Linked DNA regions of Homo sapiens: region 2 is linked to region 1. The links come from fine-mapping of genetic effects on gene expression. A gene starts in region 1. The other region holds a variant in brackets. All regions are shown on one strand. Distances are between the middles of the regions.

What was found. PIP is the estimated chance that this variant, and not a neighbour inherited with it, causes the effect.
Region 2: its variant is the best candidate, but not a certain one, in a credible set for the expression of SUCLG1 in whole blood (TOPMed, PIP 0.59).

Annotation. Positions count from the first base shown.
Region 1 is chr2:84,457,028-84,462,411 of GRCh38, forward strand. SUCLG1 (succinate-CoA ligase GDP/ADP-forming subunit alpha) reads right to left here and starts at 2,253. Exons shown (of 9, transcript NM_003849.4): 1 at 2,146-2,253. The coding sequence starts at 2,242. It also overlaps a transcript of DNAH6 not described here. RefSeq lists an enhancer at 2,290-2,429 and a silencer at 2,610-2,799.
Region 2 is chr2:84,491,461-84,496,844 of GRCh38, forward strand. It overlaps a transcript of DNAH6 not described here. Among named protein-coding and RNA genes, the nearest start is that of DNAH6, 22 kb to the right of the region's middle. The variant T/C (reference allele first, on the strand shown) is at 2,682.

The DNA of each region.
Region 1 (5,384 bases):
TTTTTCTGTGGCTGTTAACTCTAATCAATATTGCAACACTATGACCTTCAGCAAGTAATGTACCATAAGTTGAAACTTAACAGAGGGAACAAAATTCCCTAACATCTGTAGCTCTATTAGCTTCACAGACTAAATAATTTCTGGTCCCTTTTTAAAAAAAAAGTTTGCAAGGTGATGTTGTAGCTGCTATTTTTCTAGTGGGAGTGAAAATGGGCTCGGAAATGTGGCATGGGAAAGAGGAGTTAGAGTTTTGTGAATTTAGAGGTGTTTACACATTAAGCATTGTTGTCTGTAACCCCTCTTAATATAGAATACATCTTGGTTTAAATCTCAGACCCGTAATAACAAGTTAATCACATGACTTGAATAATTCAAGCCCACTCCAGTAACAAAACTAAACCAGATGGTCACTCTAGGGCCAAATGATCCTGGGAGTCTAGGAAGAACACACTTCCAGTTCTGTGGGAAGAGGATTGAGAGGACTGCTAAGGGTGGAGTAAGGAACTAGATCTTTTAGACACTCTTCCTTTATTCTCTAGATTTTTCTAGACAGCAGACCTACCTGAGGCTAGGATCTTTCAGAACCTCAGACTAGCAAGACCACAGAAGCGAAAGACACAGGTGGGCAACTTCTTCCTAGGGTTTCCCACCACAGTGGCTGTGCTGCACATCTGATCTTCTACATTCTAACCCACTATCTATTCAAATTAAGCTGGTTTAAAACCATATCCAATATACTTCATTCTTGGTGCTCAAACTTTATTGACCTGAGTGATTACTGGGTATAATGAATTCTTTTTGTCCTTCTGCCTACAACACTCTCAAGAATCTCCAGAAAGCTTTACCAAACAAACCATTTCATACTTGCTAACGTTATCTAGCCAGACCTTTGTCCTCAAGTGATTGGCAACTAAGTGTTAGCTATTGAGTGCACACTCATCAATGTACACTTTCAGAATGTAATCTTCTCAAGAAAGGAATTAAGTCTCATAAAATATTCAGTACAAGCAGAATTAAGAGCAAAGCGGAAAAAGAAAACTAACTTTGAGTGTTTGTTACATACGAGATGCTTTATATAAATTGCTCCACTTATTCTGCAGTGAACCCAGATCATCCTGTACATCATCATTGCTAAAATGCACATTTTTTTTCACTTTTTAAAAAACCAGGATACATGTGACAACCACTGGTGTGTCACAGTTTTAATAAGCAATCGTTCTTCATTGTTAGTGGTAAACAAAATAATGGTCCACCTTACAAGTGATGGTGCTTCAGGCCCCTTAAAATGTGTTAATATTTTCATGTGATTGGAAACACTGAAAAACAGATTAAGTGTCCAGGGTTATTACACAGACTGAAAAGGGACTAGCCAGACTTCAAACCCTGATGTGGCTGATTCCAAAGTTTCTTTCTACTATAACCTACCTGACAAGCACAGAGACTTTGAATATGGCAAGAATTTTCCATAGTCAGCGTGTCTCAAAGACTAGCAACCTTGGGTACTAAGTTTTCGGGAACGGATGTGTCCACAAATCGCCTGGTGGAGACACTGCAAATAAGCTGGTTTAGGTCCCAGCCAACCATAAGCTTCTAGTAGTCTATGCGGCTATGCCGACCCCACTCCGTGTGCAGAAACCATCTTTCCCTGACATACAATCCTGCAGAGGGGGAATTCGAAGTGCAGGACCTTTCCGTACTAGGGACAGCCTCATCCCCCAACTTCCTACTGAGACACTCTTCCTCTACCTCTCAACCCAGACCCTTACCTTCCCCACCAAGTTCACCTTGGACCTCTTCATCCCCAACTCCAAATAAGGCCAGTCTAGACGCCACCCCCATCCTGTCATTTGTCACCGCGGGGCCGAGAGCAAGCTCCCAAATTTGCAGGGCTCCCGGACCCGAATCCTGGCTCAGCCACCCAATATCTCCATCTGCCAGCGGCCTAAGTCATGCCCCCCGCCCCACGTATCCAGCAAAGCTCCTTCCACCGTAGGGGTCCCCGACTCGAAGCCGGAATCCCAAGCGGCTCCCAGGCCCCCGCCGAGGTCCAGCCCTGAGGGCCCAGCCGCGGCCTGGGCCAGGAGGTTGGGTCCGGCGGGGCCAATAACCCGCGGGCGCCAGGAAGACAGTACTGGCTGGACTCACGGAGGAAGCTGCGCGACAGGAGACGGGCGGCGGCGAGGCCGCTGCTGCCGGAGACCATGGTAGCGATGTCAGCGGCAGCGGCAAGGGTTGCGGTCATACGCCAATGACACTCCCAGGCCCCCGGGGACCTCCCAGGGGCAGAGGCCGGAGGAGGCAGAGGGTGGCCACAGCAGTCGCCTGAACAAATTTCCCTTTACAGAGGATTCTTCACGAAACAGCGGGAATGGCAGGTGAAGACAAAGAGGCATCCTATCGGAGAGGCAGATAATAACTCGGCTCCTTCCTAGAAATGTGGGTTTGATTAACATTAATTATAACAGCAGCTGAGGGAAAACCCCACGCGAGACTGGCCAGCGCGTGGCATTGTGGGCAATGTAGTCTGACGGCCGCGACTGGTTCGTAGCTTTTGAGTGAGGCGGCGGGAAGGGAGCGAGGGAAGAGCGGCAGTGAGACCGGGGAGACAAGGGACTTGAAGACTAGGAGGGAAGAAACAGCGAGGTGAGGTGCGAAGAGCAGTGCCAGAACTTTGTATCCCAGGCCCATCTCCTTCCCCCTTCGTTTTCCTCGTTTGCTATTAGAGAGAATAATATTTCTCACCGCGTACCTGTGCCTGGACCCGGAAGGGTTGCCGCTGGGGACGGGAATTCGAACTGGCACTGGTGGCCTGTGAAGGGAAAGATGTGATGAGAAAGACCAAAACCTATCTTACTGACAGTTAACTTCTTGGAATGTGAATTTTTTTAGTTAAATAATCATGCAGTCTTTGACTAGCACTAAGTGCATGAGTGTTTATTCCCTGAGGATCCTAAGGGCTGAAATTCGAGGTCAAATGTGACTTTGCTCCCTGATTGGACAAACAGTTCCCTCTTCTGTAACAGCTTTAGAAGGAACCTCAGAGAGTCCCAGAGTCAAAAGGTAAACAAGAGATGAAGTAATCTGCGTCTCTGCCGAAAATCGTGCTCCTGAGATTCCTCATCAGAATTGTCAATAAAATTGCAATCCTAATTTACTTAGGTAGTCATTATAATTGGCACTGAGCTGTGGGATGGATGAGTGGGATTACCCCAGGAGATTGCCCAATACTTCCTTTATGATCCAAATATTGTCATTAACAGGTTGGACTTCACTGCAAATAAACTCCTCCCTCATGGATCATGTTCTTGTGATAACTAAATTCCTCAGAGTTAAATAGTATCAGTGGTTTCCAGATATATCCATTATAACAAAATGGACATTTTTATGGCAAATAAATAGAAAATCCCTTGCTATTTTAAATAGCAAAATTATTCCTGAGCTGTCGCTTGATAAGTTATATGTTTAGTTTCATTTAATTGATAAAATGCATGATGACAAAAAATATAATTTCAGTACACTTTTAATGAAAATTTGTATTTCCATGAAGACGGGGATTTTTGTTTGTTTTGTATCCTGGAGTATCCCCAGCACCTAGAACAATGCCTTACACAAATAACTCATCGTTGAATTGAATTGATATATATAGGAGAAATAGTAGTATATAGATTATTTTTTGGATCCACAGGCAATGTTTGATGGACTTAGGATATTTCAACCTCTTGTAATAACTGCACCCCTGTGGCAGACCAGGTCTCACTAACGCAGGCCTCCATAACAATGTTTCAGTGCTGACTGAGTGGTTAAGTTAAATATTAAAAGCCAGTGCCCTTATACAAAGGCTGAGATGTAACAGAAACCCACCAAGGGTTTTGCCTAGGCCTTTCCTGGGCCTTGAAGCATGACAAATTAATGAAGAAATTCTTAACAGGACCCATTTAGGATTAAACAAGTTTTATTGGAGGTCCGAAGAAACTCCCCAGGCCTCCACAAACAAGTTTATTGGAGGTCTGAAAGAACTCTCCAAACCTCTGTGATTTAGCAGGGGATAAGATAAGGGTAATCACCCCAGCACCTAAACCCATGTAGATTAAGTAAATTTATTGAGGCTTCAGAGGATGGTCTTCAGTACTCAGACCTTAGTTATAGATTAAAAGAAGTTAATCACTTATGTCTTTAGATAAATGCACACTTACAAGTAAACATATAGCTTAGAAGGTATATAAGCTCTGGAAAACTGTAATTTTAAGTTGGTCTGATGATAATTTCCAGGCCTTCTCCCTGTAATCGGTTGCAGAAATAAAAACTCTCTTCCTCCCCAGTTCATCTACATCTCATTATTGGGCCACAAAAAATAGCAGCCCAACCCTCAGTTTGGTCCGGGAACACCCCTACCTCAATTCTGTAGCTCATAGGTAGGGGACAACCACACTAGTCAATACCACACCACTCATCTTTGTATGCAGATTGAGTTTGGAAATCAGACAGGTCTGGGTTCAAATTCCAACTCTGCCACTGGCTACATGACCTCTGGGTTTCAGGTTTTATTACTGAGATGGGTATGAAACTCCCTATTTCATAAGAGTGTTGTGAACATTTAATACATTTAGTATATAAAGCTACTGTCACCTTGTACCAAATAGTCGATAATGGTAGTTATTATCATTAAAGAACTGTCTTTTTTACATGGCAGGATCATGTTTTAAAGGTTTTAACTAAAGTGAGTAACCAAATTAGAATAGGATATTTCTATTTGTCTCAAAACTTTGTCTAAAGCTCTAAAGCTGAAGACAACAAGCCTTACCTCCACATCCATAAGGAGGGCAGTCTAGGAGCTACTTCTCTCTGAAGTTTGATAGGAAGTGGCCAAACTTGTCTTTGAATTCTCACCCCCACATCCCAGCCGGCTCAGATAAGCAAAAGACTAGAATTCACTGTATGAGGGTGTGAAAGGAAAATAAATCTCGGGACCCCAAAGTCATCAAGCCAAGAGAAAAGTCCAGCTGGGAACTGCCTGAGGCAAACCTACCTCCCATTTTATTCCTAAATAATATAGCTACAAAGATAATAAGCTACATACCTCCCTCACAATTTGCCCACAGGAAATTCCTGGTGGATAAAGGACAGGCAGAACTCAGTCATCACTCTGAGGCTCACCTGAGACAGATGCATATCTGATTGCTCCCTCTGCCCTATTGTTTATGTAAAAATGCAGATTCACTGAGCCAGACTAAATTGTGTATTCAGTGGAAGGCTGATCAAGGACTCAAAAGAATGCAACCTTTTGTCTCTTATCTACTTCTAACCAGGAAGTCCCTGCCTTACTGGATGGACCAATGTACATCTTACAAATATTGATTGATATGTCATGCCTTCCTAAAATGTAT
Region 2 (5,384 bases), 34 kb after region 1:
CTCAGCATTCCTTTCAGCAAGGTGTGACTGTTGGATCCAGTCCTGGCCAATGAGACATAAGTCCAAATCAAACATAGGGGCTTCTGGGAGAGCTTTTACTTTTTTGCCGTAAAGGGACAAGTATATTCTTTAAGCTTATTCCCTTCATTCTATCTTCATTGTGGACATGATGTCTGGGACTGCAGAAGAAGTGTTCTTTCTCCCAGATCCACATTTTAGAATTCAAGATAAAGACTCTGATCATTGCAATTTGAATCATGTGCCTACCTCTCAAGTTGTTTTTTCTGTTGAATGTTTTGGTTTCTGTCTTTGGTGTTAGAGGCTTTCCTTGAATTTTCTAACAGTCTTTAGTTGTCTGCCTATTTTTAAGACAGAGGGTCTAAAAACACAAAACAGTACCCAGGTAAAACTTGTTTACTGTATGCTTCACTGCAGGGTTGATCTGGCTGGGCCACTTAGTCGTAGAACTTGGCTGCCCACACATTCAGGTCTTCCCCGTTGCGCCGGTCAGATTCCGCCGAGAAGATTCTCCCAGTCTACTGCTCAGAAGGTGGAGGTCTAACTACCAGTGCTTTAAGGCTTGGGTAACCAGCTCATCCTTGTTTGCTCAGGCCTATCATAATTTTAAAATAGACCCCATCTTGGGAATGCCTTAGGTCTAAAGAAAATTGTAATGATTCAACACACTATGTCACCTTTCTGAGAGCTAAGTAGGGAAAGAGGGTTGGGTGATCTTGTCATTTTGCATGCTCACATTCAGATAATGACACTGTTTTTAGTAGGCTACCCACCTTCAAATGTGCCTACTGTCCCTTAGAGTAGAGACCTTCTGTTTTACTCATTCCAGAGAATAAATTTCCAGTCTTGTCCTGTAACTGGGGGAGGATGGAGCAAATCTGAAGACCCATTCAATCCTTGAACAGACTGTCAACCAACCCCCTTGTTTCAACCCTTATTTCCAGACCTGTGTGGTGCCACAAATTCCAGAGGCTTGAAGGATTCTATTATGTATATTAGTTGGTTATTTTCTTTTCTCACTATTGCTTAGAGTCCACCTTTATTTTTTGTTAAATCACTTACTATTCATATTTCATATTTTTGTTTCTTTTCCCATTCTTCTAATTTTTCTGAGTTTCCAACTTTAAAGAAATTCTTTTAGTGGGGTTTTAAGAAGAAATAAAATTAGTTTGGTATAGTCAAAATGCCATATTGCTCTTACATCTATGGGAATAATCTTGTCATACACTTTTTATCCAAATACCTAAGTGCCTCGGGGAATGAATTCTCAGAGCTTACTGCTATTGCCCACTGTGTGTCACTATCTTCTTACCATTTGAAACCACAATTTCTGGAGTCTTTCTAGTATTAACTTACTGAGTTCCAATATGTCTAAAGATAATAAAAAATAATGACACAAACTACAAAATCATAACACAAGCAAAAGCTGACAGCAATGAGAAATTTTCTAGAAGATTCAGTCTCCTAAAATAAAAATGGTACTTTATCTTGACATGGTGACCGCTTTCTATATATACTGTATATTCTATATATTTTTCTATATACTACATGTATATATATTTACTATAGCAGGGGTTGGGAAATCTTTACTTTAAAGGACCAGATAGTAAATATTTTTATTTACTATTTTAAAGGGGCATGGCTATGATCCAGTGAAACTTTATTTACAAAAACACAGGTAGAAGTCTGGATTTGACCCATAGATTAGAGTTTGCTAATCCCTGCTCTGTGCTATATGTAGATAATATATGTATACAAATTCTGTACCATAAATATAGACTATATACCATATGTATATTTTTAAACAAAATGAAATAATGTATAATATTCTGAAACTCACATTTTCACTTAGCAGTATATTGAGTATATTGCCCCATGTCATGTCAATACATATAACTCTCCTTCATCGTTTTAATTGGCTAGAGCAACTTATTGGGAATCATAGTTTAGATACTATATTTTATTTAAATGTAGCTTCCATTAAAATCCTTAAATAAATATCTTTGTGCCTCTGATCACATATTTTTAAAGTCAAATTTATAAAAGAGGAACTACCTTTAAAAGATACACGTAGCTTTCAAAACTCAACAAATGCTGAAAAATTTCTCTCCAAGATGCTAATTTGAACTCTATAAGCAAAAATCGTTGGCTGAGCCTACATAGTTTAAATTCCTGGAGTTAAAAAGTTATGTAAATGAGTCATCACTGAAAGGCTCCAGAAGGAATCGGCGCCAGAAGACTGGATGGCTATACAAGTGACGCAGATGGTCCAAGAGGAAGCTAGGCTGGGACATCCTTGGTAGACACAACAGCTTCAGGCCCAAAGATGAGTAAAGGGGTGAGATGCTGATATCAAATATTCTAACAAGGATAACTGATATGAAACTGGTCCATGATAGGCTGTTTGTTCAGTTTGAAGAGACTGTGACAACAAGCAAGGCTCCCCACCAAGGCACACAAGGTGTATTATGGTCAAGCACGAGGAACTAAGGCCACAGTAAGAACAGGAGTGGTTGTCATTAGTTTGAGTTTGGAGTCAAAGGCAAGACAGAATGGACAGAGTGAGATCAGAGGCAGCAGTTGCGTTTTGCAGGTTTTCCCTGTCAGCCACACTGAGGGAAGGGCTGTCTTTGTGAAAGGATGTGGTCCTAGGAGAAGGGGAT[T/C]GGGGACAAGAGTCTGGCTGCACTGGAGACAAAGGTCCAAAAAACCTCAGCCCAGGACTCACACGTTGGTCTCTCTCTGAGAGCTCAGGACACTATTAGTGGTAGCATATGAATCATCTGAGGCCCTGGGACCATCAATGTTGATTTGTTTGCCGGATACAGGTTCTCTATAATGTAGCATTTGACGAAGACCATGACTAATATCCTGATTTTCAGGAAGCAAAAAGGAGACATTAGCAGAATTTCTAGATGAAGGGGAATCATTTTCCTACTGTACTCATTATGTCACATCACATCGAAAATCCCACTTTCAGTCCCAAGAGCCATTTTTAGTGTAGAATTACTAAAGAGAGTTCTGCAAAAATATCATACACGGACTAAAGAAACTGGAAGGTTAGGAGGGAGAGATTTAAAGAAGGAAAATTAAGAGTAGAATAATATCTGCATTCAAACATTAGAAAAAAACACGGGGACAGTTTGTAGAAGTGACTAGAGAGTAGATTTTGACATCTACCCAAAACAGAACTTTCTGAAAATTAGAACTATCTAACAGAGGCACAGATATAATGCATTTCCTGTAACTGGATGTGATCAAAGATGAGAAACTCACCTTCCAGGCACCATTCCAGCCTTCCATATCCAGCAGACTTACTGGACACCAATTCTGTTCTCCATGGCAGCACTTCTAAAATTTAATATGAACTGAACCACCTGGGAATTATTAAAATACAGATTGATTCATGAGGTCTGGAGCAGGATCTGAGATTCTGCATGACTAGCAAGCTCTCAGGTGATGCCAATGCTGCTAGTCAATGGATCACACCTTGAATAGCAAGCTGCTGTGGCAGAGGCTCTCAGATGTGTCTCTGTGGAATCACCTGGGGTAGGGGACACTTTAGAAAAACTATCAATGTCTGGATCTCTCACTCTTAGAGAGTTTAATTCATATGATGTGTGGCCTGGGCATCAGAATTTTTCAAAGTTCTCTAAGTGATCTTAATATGCAACTAAGTTTAAATGCCCTTTGACCATTTATTTATTGAGACAGAGTCTTGCTCTGTTGCCCAGTCTGGAATGCAATGGCAGTCTCGGCTCACTGCAACCTCCACCTCCCGGGTTCACTCGATTCTCCTGCCTCAGCCTCCCCAGTAGCTGGGATTACTGGCATGCACCACCATGCCCTGCTAATTTTTGTATTTTTAGTAGAGACAGGGTTTCACCATGTTGGCCAGGCTGGTCTCGAACTCCTGACCTCAGGTGATCCATCCACTTTGGCCTCCCAAAGTGCTGGGATTACAGGCATGAGCCACTGCGTCCAGCCTCTTTGACCTTTTCAAATCACAAAAACACTAACTTAGAGATCACCTCTGCAAAGACCTTTAAGTCTTGAAATGTAATTATCTAGGCTTGGCAGGGCTCATCACTCATACATATTCACATTGGTTCAATATTTTGAAGGAAAACTTTATAATAATTATTAATTCTCATAACTAATGGGGCATTAGACCATATAATGCCTCAAGTTCCTTTCAGATTTAAGAAACCATTGCCCTGATACAAAATCTGGTAATGCATATATTTGACCACGAGGTGGTGATGAAGCAACAGAATACGATATCACAAACCCCTCAGAAAGTTAAGCAGCCCGTGACTTATGCCAACACTTAAGAGTGCCCCACTTGCAGACTATGTCTAATTCTCATCTTTGAGAGGTGATTGGTCACAGACTCTTTTAAGAATCTTATCAACGTTACAGACAAAGAAATACACGCACACAAACATGAATACAATTGTAAGCAGTTCACAGACCCTGAAATTACACTGGACAGCCAAGGCTGAAGAGACATTAACTCCCGTATAAATTATATGACGCCTCTCCCACTCCCACCTCCACGCTTCTCAGCAGCTGACCACATCTCCTGCTTCAGAGAGGAAATAGAATAAATAAGGCCCCAAATCTATCACTTTACCTAACCCACTGCCACCTTTCTTCCATCTACATGGGACAGATGTCATTTCTTTTTATCAAAAACTAAATCTTTCAGCAGTGCTCCTGATCCATTTCATCCTGGCCTCCACCAAGTTCATGGTCCCTCCACTTTAAGCCTTCTTATGCTAATTTAAAAGTAACTAATTTTTTCATTGTAAAAGTAGGATATGGTCTTTATTTTTAAACACACAGAATAGCAAAGGGCATCACATAAAAATAACCATAAATCTCCTAAATATTTATGTTTTTCTTCTATGTAGTTTCTGAGTTTATATATATTCTGGGCTTACAAAAATATAATCATGTTATGCAAACTGTTTTATGACATTAATACTTAATGTAACTTTAAAATATTTTCATCTTTATATTTCTTCACCTGCAGATGTGGTTCTAAACCAGAGATATTCATGTGAATCACCTATAAGAATTTTTCAAGCAAATACTTGCCTGGGTGCCAATGCCAAAGATTCTAATTCATCAGATCTGGCATGAGTCCTGGAAATCTGTATGTTTAGAAACTCCCACCTGTGATTTTGAGGTCTAATACTAGAAATATAATTTTAAATCAATTTTATTGTTATAAGTTACATATTATAAAATGCACATGTTCTAAGAAATTCAGTACAGTGAATTTGTACACATTTATATACCCATGTAACCACCAAAGTTACCAAGATATAAAACATTTCCATCACTCCCCAAAATTTTCTTGT